2 separate regions of the Homo sapiens genome follow, and region 2 is linked to region 1. Evidence: fine-mapped expression QTL. Tissue or cell type: prefrontal cortex. Region 1 holds a variant in brackets; the other region holds the start of a gene. All regions are shown on one strand. Distances are between the middles of the regions.

Region 1 (8,065 bases):
TCTGAGGACAGACAGGTGCTGTCTCTAGCATCACCTCTCAGCACGATTTTCCCGAGAGTTCACAGGTGGGGCAGGTGGTTGTTCTGACTCAACCAGAGCTTCCAGAGGGCTCTTTGATCCCTTTCTCAGTTAAACACAGAGCAGCATCTTCAGGGGTATGGCAGCTGTCCTCAAAGTTAGAAGCTGGATGCTAAATTAGGCAGTCTGTTCACTTTCCATCTGGTACCCACTCCACTAAGTCCCAAGGCGCCTGTGCTGGGGTCGGCAGTGGCAGCCTGTAGTCCCCTTCTGCTCTCCCTTCCCAGGGGGTCCTGAAGAAGCCCTGGGGCAAGGGCTCAGGGATGAGGGGGCAGAAAGGCAGATTGAGCCCCTCCAAGCTGAGCACACTGGTGCAGGAGATGTAGACGTGGGAGGAGGGGAGCACGTTTGCTCGTGAGAGTGGCTCTGGCTTGCTGCCCTGGCCGGCTGTAGTGCACAGGGTGGGGCGTCGGTAGAGCCAGACCGTGGGCTGCTGCCTGGACGCCTCGCTGACATCCCTGTGCTGCGGTTACAGAGCTGCGCCCTTCTAGACTCTGGAAGTTGAGTAACAGGACCTGCTCTGCCCACCCAGGAGGGGCCTGCCGCTTCACCAGAGGCACCAGTGGGGTCCCACAGTCACCTGAGGTACCCCTGGACTGTCTTGACGCCTAGAGGTCCGGGCAGGGGGTGGCTGCCATTAAAGGTGGGGTCTTTGCTGAGTGACCTTTTGTGTCCTGGATCCCTCAGGGCCTGGACTGCACTCCGGGTGGGGTCAGGCTCCCGAGGCCCCTGCTCTCTGGTTCTGGATGTTGTGGGTAGTTCTGTTGCTTTGGATGGCTGGGCCTTTGGATGGTGGCTTGTGGGGAAGGGACGGTGAGGAGTCAAAGATGAGCCAGGACCCATGTGGCCGGCACATGCGCTAGTGCCGGCATCTCATGTGTGCAGCGTGGGCTCCCTTAGTGCCTGGCACCTTAGTGCTCTGCTAAGTCTCATTGTTTAAAAATGTGTAGTTTATCTGCAGCTTTTCCTAGTTATTTTAATTACTTTTCATTTTATTTGAATAGTGTGTGCAAATGTAGAGAGTAAAACAATACTGCGGCCATTTCCTGCCCTCCCTTCCCCCAGGCAGCCACTCTTGGCTTGTTTCTTCTGATGTGCACACGTGTCCGTATTTCTAAATAACGTGCATATCCTGCTGTCTTCCCCCAAAATGTGTACTTAACCAAAACAGCACCAGTGTCACTCCTGAAACAAAAATTACCAAGAATGTCTTAGTATCATCAAATACCTAAATGGTGTTCACAATTCCACTTGCCTTAAAATTAATTTTTTCGATTATTTGACTTGAAGTCCAATTAAGGACTACACCTTGTGATTGTTTTTTCCCTAGCAATTTATTTTTTGAAGAATGAACTTTATTTTTATTGGATCTACTTAAAACATTTTTGTGTCACCTAGTAGCAGGGGATTTTGAATACATGTCATGTGTGTTTATAAAGCCAGCTCTCCATATCCCCCAGTGTCTCCAGGAGCTGCTTTTGTGACCTCACTGCCTGATCTCTTTATCATCTTCAGGTGCTTGACCCTTGCACAGAGAGAAGCTTCCTGGGCTACAGGGCATGGCAGCCTGTCCTTTCGGGGAGTGAGATTAGATTTAGTCCCTGCACTTTGCCTCTCTAGAAGCAGCTTCTCGCCTTTCCCTCCCGAGGGCTGGCAGGAGTCACTGTCACCCTTCATGGGGTCTGAAAGGTTGCATAGGCTCACCTGGTCTTAGACAAGGACAGTTGCAGCTTCCGCACCAGGCAGACCTGCAGTTTGAGTGGCTGGGGATAGGTGGAGCGGCGGCCTGGCCACAGTGCCCTGGACAGCAGCACATCACATCAGTTAACACTGTTTGCCTTCCAACTAGTTATTACGGTGTCCTGTGGGACAATTAGACTGGAGGAGCCAAAGGAATGTGCAGGGGCACTGGGTTTCTGTTTGGAGAGAGGCTCTCGGTAAACAGAGTTCGCATTCCTCCAGATTCTGTGGGACCAGAGTAAATATCATTATGCCACAGCCAGGCTTAAGCAATCTATCTGCAGTGCCGTTCCCGCAGCGCACACTGCTCCCTCTGTCTCTGCTGATGACCTTCGAGGCTGTCCTAGGCAGGTTCTCCCTGAGGAGCTCCCCACACCAAGCCTCCCTAACTCTGCAAAGCAGCCGGAGCAACAGAGAGCAGCGGGCGGCGGGCGGCGGCCGCCGCAGTCCTCCCGGCTTTCTAGGTGCGCGGGGCTGTCGTGTTCCAGTCCCTGTGTTCCCCGTCGCTGGAGTGCAGCTTAAGTGCGAATCATTTCTTGGAAAGTTTAGAGATAATTTTGTCAACTACCCACAATATGTATGTGTGGACTAGATTACTTTCTTATTTCAGGATCTAAAGGCAAAATGGAAAAACGTCACATTTTGTGGTTATTACCAGGGACTGAAGTGAGTTGCCCGGTGGCCCCTGGTGGCTTTAGCTCCCCTGGTCACCTGAAGGGCTGCAGTGACCCCTCCTGGCCAGCAGAGGTATTGGCCCAGCCAGGCTGGGGGAGGCTGAAACTGCTTCCCTTCTCTGCAGCCACAAAGGGCTGGATTCCTTGGGCGCCAGGAGGGGAGGATTTTTCTTTTCCCTCCGATAGCCCTACTGGGCGCTAAGATTGTTGTGAATCATTACCCTCAGAATTTGGACTTTCTAGATGCTTCTTAACCCATGATTTAGGTGAGTAAACTTGGAAAAATGTTTTTGCAAAACTTGATGATCAAGCTGAACGTAGAACGATATTCCTAATGGGTGTGTTTGCCTTTTTTCCCCCTTTTGAGACAGGGTCTCACTCTGTCACCCAGGCTGGAGTGAGTGGCATGATCATGCCTCGCTGCGTACTTGACCTCATGGGCTCAAGCGACCCTCCTGCCTCAGCCTCCTGAGTAGCTGGGACCACAGGCACATACAACATTCCCAGCTAATTTTTTGTATTTTTGATTGATAGAGATGGTTTTGCCACGTTGCCCAGGCTGGTCTTAAACTCCTGGGCTCAAGTAAGATTGCCGTCCTGGGATTAGAGGCGTGAGCTGCTGCAGCGGCCTGCTTTTCTTTGAAGCCTGAGAAATGTTGAGGGCCGGGCACAGTGGTTGACACCTGTAATCCTGGCGCTTTGGGAGGCCGAGGTTGGTGAATCACCTGAGGTTAGAAGTTTGAGACCAGCCTGGCCAACATGGTGAAACCCCATCTCTACTAAAAATAAAAAAATTAGCTGCGTGTGGTGGTGGGTGCCTGTAACCCCAGCTACTTGGGAGGTTGAGGCAGGAGAATCGCTTGAGCCCAGGAGGTGGAGGTTGCAACGTGAGCCGAGATTGCGTCATTGCACTCCAGCCTGGGCGACAAGAGTGAAACTCTCACTCTCCCTCGAAAAAAAAAAAAAATGTTGATCCTGTCTTGGTCCCCCTGGGATCCGTCTTTTCTGACGTTTGCCGCTGTCTCCCCTCATCCCCCAGGTTGCTAGTTAATTCTCTCCCCTCGTGCCTGCACCCTGCTGCCCTAGCTAGCCTGGCCACCTCACTGCCGTGTCCTGCATCAG[C/G]CCAGCCACAGAGTCCTACAGGTCCGGGGCTTGCTTGTGGGAACGGCTTGTTCTTCTAGACTCTGGGGGCGGGGGCTTGGGTGTGTTTCCTTACTTGTAAAAGGTCCTGTTGTTTTTGGGAGCAGGGAGTAATGGCGGATGAGACGCTGTGTGGAGGCGGCAGCTCCTGGTATGGGGTAACGCCCTGTCCCCTCATTGGCAGGTGGTTTGCATGAAGCATCAGGCCAGAGGGTGTGAGTGCCAAGCCCTCACCCCACATGCTGCTCCTGTTAAAAGCAAACTCCACTGACCCCCCCGGGAAGTCAGGATTTGGGATTTACTTCCTGGAATGCTTGCCTCTGGCTGCTGGGAATTGGGGCCTTTCCCCAAAGCCTGAACCAGGCCTCACAGTGGCCATCAGGCACAGAATGGATGGGCACAGCTGAGTGGCTCCACTGGCTTTAATCTGCCCCACCTCTTCCACACCAACCTCCACCCTCTGGTTCCGATGTGCTTGGTTACAAAGCACCTGATTATTTAAGAGAACGAAAAACCACCACCAGTTCCTGTAAAGAATAAGTCACAGGTGCACAGGTGAAGGGCTGAGTTGTGGTCCAGCCCCAGGGAGTGTGGGCTGTGAGGCAGGAGCGAGCTAAACCTGTAGGAGCAGCGCCACGGCTGCCAGGATCCACTTCGCTGCCTTCTCTTTGGTCTTCAAGTTAAAGGTCCAGACATAGGTGGGGCCGCGGATGCGTGTTTTGTACACGGGACACTCATAGATGTTCTTGGTCTCCATGCGGTCCACAGGAATGGCCTTGATGAAGATGACAGGCATGGCCGGGGTCAGCTCTTTCAGCCGCGCTTCAGCGATGACTCCAGTCTGGGTGTCCCAGCGAGCCCCTGCAGGGACAGTATGGCTGAGGGTCAGGTGTGCTGCCAGTAAGTGAGGGAGGGGCTGGCAGGAAGGGTGGGGTCCTCACACTCCCCGCCCTCTGCAGAGCTGGGCTCTACCCCAAAAGGCTTCAGGCCAGCTGCCACGGCTGGAAGCAGAGGCCTTCGTAGGTGATGGCCTGCATGTTGTAACTACCCCGTCCCGCTGGGCTCAAGGAACAGCTCAGCTAAAGCCCTCGGGTTCCATCCGTTTAAATCTGTGGCATTTTCAGAGCCTCATCTGTCAGCCTTAATGTCAGTGGCAGGAAGTCATAACTCCAGCTAAAAATTACAGAGTAAAGTTCCCTGATTCTTAATGTGTAATGTCTGCCCTATGTGTACATACACAATATAATTATACATCTGTGCATATAAATATTGCCTTTAACCAGACTGCTATTATTTCTACTCGCCCTATTTAATGGTGTTTTTATTTCCTGTCTGAAATCTCAAAATAAACAAACATGGAGAGCTTATCTTTGGTTGTGTGGGAAATGGGGTGCCTGAGCCGTTGCTGGCCCAACCCTGCCACCCCACAGGTAATGGGGTGACGTCAGCTGTTGAAGGGGACAGGTATGTGGTGGTGGCATTGCTGCTCAACTCAGAGGCGGGCTGAGAAGATGGCCGGCCTCGGTGTCCTGGCTGACCTCTTCTGTGTAGCAGGACAGGGGTGATGTGGGGGCGGACTTCTAACAGGTGCCCCAGCCTCTTTTCCCTTGAACCCTGTGTTCCAGGAGTGGCAGCAGCTGGGGAGTGGGTGAGACTGGGCCAGCCAGCATGACCTGGAGTCTCAGTGCAGCCACAAAACGCACTTCTGCCCTGGGCTGACTGCTCCGTGGCAGGGAAAGCCTGGGCTTTTCAGCGCTTTTCATCACGTCGGAGCTGCTCTCTCACAAGCTCTGCTGTTTTCATTAAAGCAGAGGCCAGGTGACTGGGGTGTTTTTGGTCTCCTCCAGACCCTGCACATTCCCTGAATCCTCTCAACCCTCTCTAGGGTCAGCGTGGCTCTGACCTGCAGGCTGATGCCCCCTGAGAGCACCTCTCTCCTGCCTGTCCCCACAGCTCTTGAACAGCCTGTCTTTGCCAAGAGCTAGTTTTATCTTGTCTTGGCAAGTAGCACTGGCTCTGGAAGCTTCTGCAGACAGACAAGAGCCCTCCTTACCTTCCATGAAGAGTCCGTACACGTAGGAGCCCTCTCGCGGAGGAGCGGTCATGTCCTCTCGGTTTTTCTTGGTCACCTCGACAGACAGACACATCTTGTCCAGGGGCCACTCGTTCTTCCTGGCCATGGACTGCATGATGGCCGTGAGGAACGACTGGGGGTTGAAGAAGCCGGCCAGCCACACGGTGGTGGGCAGGGCAAAGTCTGTCGTCCAGGCCTCGAGTTCCTGCAAGGACACACGAGCCGCTAGGAGGAGAGGACATAGAATGACATGGGAACGACCGGGCCTTGGCCGTTCTGAGCAGGGGTCACGCCAGAACCTTCCACGGGCCACTCAGCGAGCTAGAAGTGCTGGACAGAGTAGGGGCCATGGAGCCCAGCCACCTACCATGACGCAACTTTGGTGTCTGCTTTTTTTTTTTTTTTTTTTTTTTTTTTGAGATGAAGTATCGCTCTGTCACCCAGGCTGGAGTGCAGTGGTGCAATCTTGGCTCAACGCAACCTCCGCCTCCCGGGTTCAAGCAATTCTCCTGCCTCAGCTTCCAGAGTAGCTGGGATTACAGGTGCAGGCCACCATGCCCAGCTTATTTTTGTATTTTTAGAGATGGGGTTTCGCCATGTTGGCCAGGCTGGTCTCGAACTCCTGGCTTCAAGTGATCTGCCTGCCTTGGTCTCCCAAAGTGCTGGGATTACAGGTGTGAACCACCGTGTCCAGCTGCTGTTTGCTCCATTTTAAACAAGGGAACAGGTAGAGAAGGGTCAGGAAGAAAATGGCTTCCTGTTTGTGGATAATTTAGGAGCCCAAAGAGGCTCTTGCCTTCATTGCCTCGCTCCTTATAGAGGACGGCTTACCCTTTGAGGGTCGCTTGAGGAGGAGCTGATGGAAGCTGCTCTGCGGCCTGGCTTGTTTTCCTCCTTTGGGAGGAAATGGCTGCACTGTCAGGGTGTGGGAGGGGCATGGGCTAGGCCCTTCTGGCCCTGATCTGACAGAGGACAGGCCCCCAGGAGCCTCCTGGCCATGCTCCTGCAGGCTCTAGGGTGTGGGGTGTGCCGAGCTCTGGGCACTCGGTCCCCGAGTCTTAGGAAGCCTCTCAGAGAAAACGGCACTTACCCTGATGCGGAGCAGCAGGTCTGCGTACCAGGCCGCCAGGCCCATCATGGAGGGGTAGGCCCGGGCCACCCACGTATCAGGCACGGTGTCATAGAAGAGAGCCGTGGACAGATCTTCCACGTCGGTCGTGATGGTCAGTTCTCCCTAGGAGACACACAGATGGGTGTGGGGAGCCCTGAGCTGGGGCCTGGGAGAGCACCAGCCCCAGTGCGTGTCATGAGTTGTCAACACAGTGTGGCTTTGTGCTGCGCCTCTGGAGACGCCCTGCATCAGGGCCACGCAAGCGCTTCCTGCTAAGGAACGGTCTAGATGAGCTCCCGGGGCTTGTTCTGGAACTGCCAGAGCTCTGGAGAGGGAGCAGTACCATGCTGATCCGGGGCCTGTGCTAGGCCTGGGTTGCCAGAGGCCTGGGTTTCTGCTGGTTTCACCATCCAGCCACGTCCCTGGGGCCGGGCTGACCCATGTTTACCTTCAGCCCCAGGTTCAGCTCCTTGAGCGAACGGCGCATTTCGTTGGTCAGGATGTTCATTCTTTCACATTCTTGAAAGGCGACTACCACGTAGGGGGTCTTTTCCGCTGCCTTTGCCATGATCTCAGCCATGTTGAAAGTCTCCGGAATCTTCTCCAGGATGTCGTCCAGCACGGCCTTCACCTGGAAGCCAGTCCCCGGACAGCCCCTGTCACTGCAAAGAGCCCACCCCACCCACTGCAGGGTCAGGGAGCCTGCCCAAAATGTTCCCAGCCCCAAGTCCTGGAGAGGAGGGAAGAGGCAAGTAGAGTTGCCAGAAATGCAGGGTCATGGGTGCAGCCACACATTTGATGAGGAGAGGGAGCCTTGGCCAGCGGCTCCGAGCATTCTGATCTCACTACAAGTCCCTGCAGCCGCGGCCATGAGCGCATCAGGCCACCTGGCTCGGTGCCTCATTTGTTCATTCCCACGCACCAGCCTCTGGTCAAATGTAGCCAGCGGTTGAGGGATTGCGACTTTGTCCTTTACGTGGGCTTTCTGTAGGGACCATGCTGGTCACACCCTGTTAAGGAGTGGCCCACACAGTGCAGTGGTCACCTGCACCACCGTCTGTCAGCCAATTCCTGATTTCAGTCATTAGACTAAGAGAAAGTCCTGGACCTAATAGGAATAAGGGTCTCACATCAAGAATTCAGTCTTTACCGGGAAGTCCTGTACTTAGCTAGTACGTAATAGAGCCTTTCCACATTCTATTAAGAAGTACAGGCCAGGTACAGTGGCTCACGCCTGTAACCCCAGCA
Region 2 (8,080 bases), 45 kb before region 1:
GACCAATCAGCACTCCCCACTTCCCAAGCTCCTTTACTAGCCAAATTCTCTTTAAAAACTCTGATCCCCGAATGCTTGGGGAGACTGATTTGAGTAATAATAAAACTCTGGTCTCCCGCACAGTGGGCTCTGCGTGAATCACTCTTTCTCCATTGCAATGCCTCTGTCTTGATAAATCAGTTCTGTCTGGGCAGCAGGCAAGGTGAACCCATTGGGCAGTTACAGTTTCATCCCATCTCCAGCAAGCAGGCTGCATTCCTTTTAACAAAGAACAGGCTCCTCACAAACAGCTGAACAGCCCCTCGGGACAGTTTCTCATCTCTGGAGGCAGAAGGTGGGCCGGACAGCCACTTCCTCCCTTTGGAATTTGCTAACAGCCCTGTGTTTGGGAGAGACCCTCTCTAGGCAAGCAAGCTAGAGGAGGAGGGGCCTTCCTCTTGTGTTACTGTGATTTTCGGTTGAGGGAGTGAATCACAGGCAGTGAGGCATGGGCTGTTGGCTCAGGATTTCCTGGTGTTTCCTGCCTGGGAGAGCTGCCCCACTCTCAGGGGCAGCAGCCCACCACTCCTTGACGTCAACTCTCCCTCCAATGAATGGGTTTCCTTTTCCGTTTGGGAAGACATGGGATCTGCCGTCAATCCCGTCGACCCTGTCTTTCTAACCCTGGCACCTCCTGTCTGGGAAGGAGCGAGTGCGACTAACGAGAAGGCAGTGGGTGAGGGCAGGAGGGCGAGGGGGACTCAGAGGACAGATGTCTTCTCGCCCGCAGTCATTGAGATGGGCATCCAGAAACCCCATCCACAGCAGTAGTGTCTGACCCAGATTGAGAGCCGGCCACGCAGCTTTGGGACACCCTGAGTGCTCCCAGGCAGGCTCTCTGGGTCACCTTTGTTGTCTGGGAGGGTCTTATCTCCTCTACTTGTTTTCAGTAACTAGCCCAGATGAGACCTCCTGACACGAACAATGCATGTGCTGTCATCCTGTAAATGGAATCATTTAAAAATTGCACAATCTCTGAAAACCATTATTTAACATTTTTGCAACCTCAAAATGTATGTGTCCCCAGCAAAGTCGTGGTTGCCTCACTCTGGTGATAGCTCTGTCTGTTTTAAACTAGCCATGAAGGCCAGAGGCTCTCGATGTGTGGTTTCAGAAGGGACTGGGTCATTCCTTGATGTTATCCTTAGGGTAAATACTTATTAGTGTGACTTACCATGCTATCAATATTGCTGTCTGTTGCTAGCATTTCTTTAAGGTTGGGAATTCCCAGTGAGCCTGTACCATGGCTGTTTGTCTCAGTACCTCGCACAGCAAAGCACCCATGCAGAAAAGCTGCCAGCTCCTTCTAGGATGATAACCAGGCTCCCATAGCCCATGTGGCGCTCACCGCTGAGCATGACGGTGTAGCCATACAGCAAGTGTTTACTCTGCAACAACCGTGGGCCAGGAACAGTGCAAAAGTGGAACCATGCAATGGATGGCCTCATTCTAGTTACTGGAAGTTAGGAAATTTGATGATTCACCATTTCTAACTTGGAAGGGTTGAATCAAATTCCATGTAGTATTAGTAAAGCTATCTAAACGCAAAAGAAAACTTTAAGCCAATCTGAAATACTTGTTGATTGTCAACAATTTGGAAACTCCTTAATGGCACCAAATAACCAACATTAACATTTGGGGGTATTTACTTTCAGTCTTTCTGTGTACATACACGCATTTCCTCTTTCTTCCTCTCCTTTAATGAAATGAGATGGTCTCTACGCTACTCCTTGGTAATTTGGCTTTTACACTTAATGTCATTAAATATTCTTCCAGAACATGTTATTTTTATGATTGTGTGGTCTTCCAACATACCGATGTATCATTATTTAACCAACCCCCCTACCCTGAAGATTTGCTTCCACACTTCCGATATCATGAACAAGGCTGAGATGAACATTCTTGTGGGAATGTGTAGTTGATTTCCCTGCATAATCTGTGGAAGTGGACTTTGGAGTGTTTTTTTCAGTGTGTCCATATCTTTTTTTTTTGAGACTGAGTTTCGCTCTTGTTGCCCAGGCTGGAGTGCAATGGCGCGATCTCGACTCACTGCAACCTCCGCCTCCCGGGTTCAAGCGATTCTCCTGCCTCAGCCTTCCTGAGTAGCTAGGATTACAGGCATGTGCCACCATGCCCGTCTAATTTTGTATTTTTAGTAGAGACAGGGTTTCTCCATGTTGGTGAGGCTGGTCTCGAACTCCCGACCTCAGATGATCCGCCCGCCTCGGCCTCCCAAAGTGCTGGGATTACAGGTGTGAGCCACTGCGCCCGGCCCACGTGTCCATATCATTTTAACCTCACAACACGGCAGACTATGATTATGTCCTACAGCTTTTCCAGTTTCCAGGTCCCAGCCTATGTGGGTCAGCCAGGGAGCTGCATATTACAGATCAGAGATCACCTCTCCTGCCTTTCAGAATGCCACAAAGTTTTCCATTTTAAAATTAGCTGCAAAAAGTGTTCTTGGGCCGGGCGCGGTGGCTCACGCCTGTAATCCCAGCACTTTGGAAGGCCGAGTTGGGTGGATCACTTGAGGTCAGGAGTTTGAGACCAGCCTGGCCAACACGGTGAAACCCTGTCTCTACTAAAAATACAAAAATTAGCCAGGCGTGGTGGCGCACGCCTGTAATCCCAGCTATTCCGGAGGCTGAGACAGGAAAATCTCTTGATCCCAGGAGGCAGAGGTTGCAGTGAGCCAAGATTGCGCCATTGCACTCCAGCCTGGGTGACAAGAGTGAAACCCTGCCTCAAAAAAAAAAAAAAAAAAAAAGTGTTCTTGGTGTATGAGGATGTGCTCCGTCAGCTTTTTGGGCATAGAACTGTGTGTTGCCAGGGGCCAGTGATATCTGTGTACTTGGGCATATCAGGAGGGTGGAAGACTGTTCATCTCACACAGATTTGCTTAGGCTGTTCTGTGCCATGGAGCTGCAGCCTCTGGGGCTAACAGGGTGAAAAATGATTCCTCTCTCAGTCTGGTGGGGATTTTCCGTGGTTCTGTGCACCTTAGTGAGTCAGCGTTAACCAGGTTACAAGACTTTGTACAAGAACAGACTTTGTTCAAGTTTAACACCTTAGGGGTGTTGTACAAGTCTAAAGAACACCCTATCAATTAGAGCCTCAAACAGTAATTCCCTCACTTATCAGTGAGAAGTCCTTTTTTTTTTTTTTTTTTTTTTTTTTTGACGGAGTTTTGCTCTTGTTGCCCAGGCTGGAGTACAGTGGTTCGATCTTGGCTCACTGCAACCTCCACCTCCTGGGTTCAAGCGATTATCCTGCCTCAGCCTCCTGAGTAGTTTGGGATTACAGGCATGGGCCACTGCGCCCAGCTAATTTTTTGCATTTTTAGTAGAGACGGGGTTTCATCAGGTTGGCCAGGCTGGTCTCGAACTCCTGACTTCAGGTGATCCACCCGCCTCTGCCTCCCAGAGTGCAGGGATTACAGGCGTGAGCCACTGCGCCGGCCGAGGAGTCAATCTTGACAGCCAGTGGTCAGGCTCGGTGGCTCATGTCTGTAATGGCAACACTTTGGGAGGCTGAGGCTGGATGATCTCTTGAGCCCAGGAGCTCGAGACCGGCCTGGGCAACGTAGTGAGACCCCCATCTCGACAAAAAAGTAAAGAATTAGCCGGGCATGGTGGCACACGCACTTTGGTGGTCCCAGCACTTTGGGAGTGGTCCCAGCACTTTGAGAGGATCCCCTGAGGCCGGGAGGTCGAGGCTGCAATGCGCCAAGATCGCGCCACTGCACTCCAGCCTGGGACACAGACCGAGACTCTGTCTCAAAACAAACAAACAAAAGCTTTTTTGACAGCTGGTGAGTTGGAGCCAAGCGTGACGGTGCTAGAGCCCCTGCGCCGCATCCTTTCCTCCGCGACCTGTGACGAGTGACTGCAGGAATGCAGGCCACCTGGCGCCCTTACGGATTTAACGGGCCGGCTTCCGACCCCCTCCTGCGGCGCGACCACTGTTCCTCGCCTGTGTCCCCCAGAGGGGAAACTGAGGCTTGGGGGCGGTGCAGCGCCGCCCTCCCCGAGCCAGGGGTTCCGCGCCTGCGCGCCTGAGCCGTGTCCGCGCTCGCCTTTGTCAATAAAGTTCGCGCCCGCCGGGAGCGGAAGCGGAAGCGGCGAGTCTCCATGGCGGTGGCGGCGGCAGCTGCGGCGGGACCCGTGTTCTGGAGGCGACTGCTGGGCCTCCTGCCTGGCCGCCCAGGGCTGGCCGCGCTCCTGGGACGCCTGTCCGACCGCCTCGGCAGGAACCGGGACCGCCAGCGCAGGAGGTGAGAGGGGCGGCCGGGATGAGAGTGCAGCCCTCGCGGCTGCAGCCCGGCCCCCCGGCGCTCAAACTCCCGGCCCCAGCGTCCTGGGCATCCGCAGCGAGTCCCTCCCCGGTTTCCGGGCCCATTTCTGCCTCCCGGGGCTCGGCGCCTGACCTATGTGCTTCTTCACTGGCCTTCTTGAGGGAGGGTGGGCGGCTCGTGCTCCATTATCGGCCGGGTCCAGCCGGCGGGCCTCCTGCGCAGCCCGGCCAGTCCTTGCTCCCCGTCTACACCGTGCTTGTTGGCGAGCCCCGGCCACCGTGCACTTACACGTTAAAAGAGGGACTGTGTGTGCGTTCAGGGAGCTTCGGTCAAGCTCCAGAGGCTGTTTATATCATGGTTTCGGCCCCAGGATGTGAGTGTCGGAGAGTTCAGAGGGGTCTTTTCCTTAGGTAAGCCTGGCTGTGAGTGAATCACCGTTGCTGGGATTTTGTGTATAGAGCGTTTCTCACATCCTGCCAGAAAAAGCTGTGAAGCAATCCTTAGTAACACTCAGGCATGGGAAGAGGAGCCACTCGAAACACTTTTTACACATTTCAAAGGGCCTGTGTTCTGGAAAAGTACTGAAGTTATGTAAATGATGAAGTAGGCTTTGGAGCAATTTGTTCAGGCAGTGGTCTTTTAAAATAAACATTTGCCAAGAACATGCTGACCTGAGGCTTGCTAATATTAAAAAAAAGGGGATAAATAATTCTTGGCCGGGTGTGGTGGCTCACGCCTGTAATTCCAGCACTTTGGGAGGCCGAGGCAGGTGGATCACCTGAGGTCAGGAGTTTAAGACCAGCCTGACCAACATGGTGAAACCGTCTCTACTAAAAATACAAAATTAGCTGGGCATGGTGGTGCATGGCTGTAATCCCAGCTACTTGGGAGGCTGACCCTGAGGCAGGAGAATCGCTTGAACCCAGGAGGTGGAGTTTGCAGTGAGCCAAGATTGCCTCATTGCACTCCAGCCTAGGCAACAAGAGCAAAACTCTGTTTCAAAAAAAAAAAATTCTCTTGTGTGCAAATAGTTTTCTTTTCTTTTCTTTTTTTTTTGAGACGGAGTTTCACTCGTTGCCCAGACTGGAGTGCAATGGCGCAATCTTGGCTCACCTCAATCTCCACCTTCCAGGTTCAAGCGATTCTCCTGCCTCAGCCTCCCGAGTAGCTGGGATTACAGACATAAGCCACCACACCCGGCTAATTTTGTATTTTTAGTAGAGACAGGGTTTTTCCATGTTGGTCAGGCTGGTCTCTAACTCCCAGCCTCAGTTGATCCACCTGCCTCGGCCTCCCAAAGTGCTGGGATTACAGGCGTGAGCCACCGTGCCCGGCTGCAAATAGGTTTCTTAATTGAGTCTTACACTTGATCTTTAAAAAAAAAAATCTTAGAACTGCTTCCTTTAGTTGAGGTTGCATTGTGTTAGATTTTCTATCTGTACGTGTACTCCTCGGGTGAGATTTGACCTCCTGGGGTCAGACATCTAGTACAGAGATCTGGGGTCCAGTCATGTGTACTGATTCTAGGTACAGAAAAGAGCTTGCTTCATGGTGATCTATGGTGGAAGATTTTCATCGAAAACTCAAGTTTGATTTAGGGGAATTTTTAGGTGATAGAATCAGGGCAGGATGGCGCTCTTGGAAACCTGCTAGGTTTCACGTTGGTGAACCCAGCAGGACTGGGGCTGTAAAAGAAATGGCCTCTGCATTTTTTGCATTTTCATTTTTTCAGTGTTTAACAAAAGACCTGCTCATCTCTGGGTGACGAAGTCAGATGACTTCTACGTCCTGGCATCAAACCACTGAGATTTGGTTTACAGTTTCAAAAAAATGTTCTACCCTTGAAGACAAGATTTAGGTGACTTTGTCATTTCCCTCTATATGTTTAAACTATATGAAAAACACTTCATTATAAATCATTGTTCAACATTGGAATTGATTACTAAAGGATGTTGGGGCAGTTGACACAAATATTTTAAAAAAGAAATCTCTCATGAGTGTGCTTTTTTTCTTTTTCTTTTTCTTTTTTTTTTTGAGACAGAGTCTTGTTCTGTCACTCAGGCTGGAGTGCAGTGGTCTGATCTCGGCTCAGTGCAACCTCTACCTCGTGGGTTCAAGTGATTCTCCTGCCTCAGCCTCCAGAGTAGCTGGGTCTACAGACACATGCCACCACGTCCGGCTAATTTTTGTATCTTTAGTAGAGACAGGGTTTCACCATGTTGGCCAGGCTGGCCTCGATCTCCTGACCTTGTAACCTGCCCACCTCGGCCTCCCACAGTGCTGGGATTACAGGTGTGAGCCACTGCGCCCAGCCACTTTTTTGTTTTTTGGTGGTGGGAGGGGCAGTGTGGCAGTGGAGATAGTCTAAATTGACTTTCTAATCTCTTTTTTTTGTAAATTGTGTGAGTGGATGCAGTTTGTGTGCCTTCATCCTTCATTAAGCTGAGAGAGATGATTGTTTCTCTGGGACAACAGTTCAACCAGCAACTCAGTTTCTTGGGCATTAAGACAGAAGTTTTTGCTTTGTAATCCTCGGAAATAATGCCTATGGTAGGACTGAGGATAAATGCTTTGACCGGTATTGAGTGGTAGTGTAGGTTTCTGAGCCTTTCTTTGCCTTATTCGGTTTGCAGTTCTTTTCTGATTCGTTGTGGCCTTGGTGTTCGAGTTATTCATGTTTGTTGTGGCTGCTTACCCTTTATTAGCTGCTGACTTTGCTTTCTTCTCCATTATTCAGTTGCACCTCCCAATTTCTCATTCCCCGAATGATGTGGTTTCTTGTAACTCGCTGATCATTGATTCATTGATAATAGTTCTGTGCAGTCATGAGCTTGAATTATTTTAGGTTTTAGCTTGTCGATCTGAGTCAGCTGTTGGAGGGCCAGTGAACCCTCGTGAGGGGACGTTCCTTTTACTGCCGCGGTTTCCTTTCAGGCATAGAGACAGCCAGAGAGACAGAGAACTCTACTTAAAATTACTTCTGTTAATGATTTAGAAGCACTGTCATTTCCTCTTAAGCTAGCATCTGACTCATTATCATTAGGAACTGCTGGATCCGTTAATTTATTCATCATGTGTGTATTGAGCACTGCTGTGCTGTGCTAGGTACTCAGGAAGCAAAGATAAAGACACAGCCCCACCTCCAAGACGCTCAGACCCATAAACAATTACAAGAAGTAGGTAGAAGGTCATGGCAGTACCTTGGAGAGGTCATGGAAGGCTTCCTGGTGCAGTGGCTCAGAGCTGTTTTGAAGGAGGGGTCGGAGTAGTTAGGCTCGGTGAAGAAGAGGGGGAGTGGATGTTCAAGAAGTGATAGTGACATGGACTGCAGCGAAAGGCAATTCTGAGGTCCCACCAATACTGAAACCATTTCCAGGAGCTGACTAGGGGTACCGAGTAGGGGATGGAGGGAGGGAAGAAGAGGAGCTAGGAGCAAGCCAGTCTGGGCCAGAGACCCAGGAAGACAAGTTCTGAGATTCCATGTATGATTTCTTTTGATTCTGGTTCAGCCTGAGATGGTGGGGGCTTTTATATGAAGTCGGGGCAGTGGGAGCAGAAAAGAGGGCTGAGTGAGAATCAGTCTTGATGGGGCACATGGATGTTGGTACATTTCACGAAAACGGAGTAAAGAAGAGGCTCAGGTTTTGGGGATGATGGTAAAGTGCATTTGGGTTATGTTAATCAGTATCCAGGTTCCTCTAGGTGATGTGTTCAGTGTCCAGTTGACTGTGGCAGAACTGGAGC

The links. PIP is the estimated chance that this variant, and not a neighbour inherited with it, causes the effect.
Region 2: it holds the start of PGS1, and the variant in region 1 is fine-mapped to the expression of PGS1 in prefrontal cortex (ROSMAP, PIP 0.95).

Annotation. Positions count from the first base shown.
Region 1 is chr17:78,419,661-78,427,725 of GRCh38, forward strand. PGS1 (phosphatidylglycerophosphate synthase 1) reads left to right here. Exons shown (of 10, transcript NM_024419.5): 9 at 1-15; 10 at 4,401-4,999. The coding sequence ends at 5. DNAH17 (dynein axonemal heavy chain 17) reads right to left here. Exons shown (of 81, transcript NM_173628.4): 78 at 7,266-7,448; 79 at 6,797-6,940; 80 at 5,686-5,911; 81 at 4,037-4,493. The coding sequence ends at 4,246. Among named protein-coding and RNA genes, the nearest start is that of PGS1, 45 kb to the left of the region's middle. RefSeq lists enhancers at 1-616, 2,890-3,469, 6,263-6,763, 6,764-7,264. The variant C/G (reference allele first, on the strand shown) is at 3,615.
Region 2 is chr17:78,374,494-78,382,573 of GRCh38, forward strand. PGS1 (phosphatidylglycerophosphate synthase 1) reads left to right here and starts at 4,156. Exons shown (of 10, transcript NM_024419.5): 1 at 4,156-4,315. The coding sequence starts at 4,173. RefSeq lists an enhancer at 4,045-5,006 and a silencer at 4,202-4,441.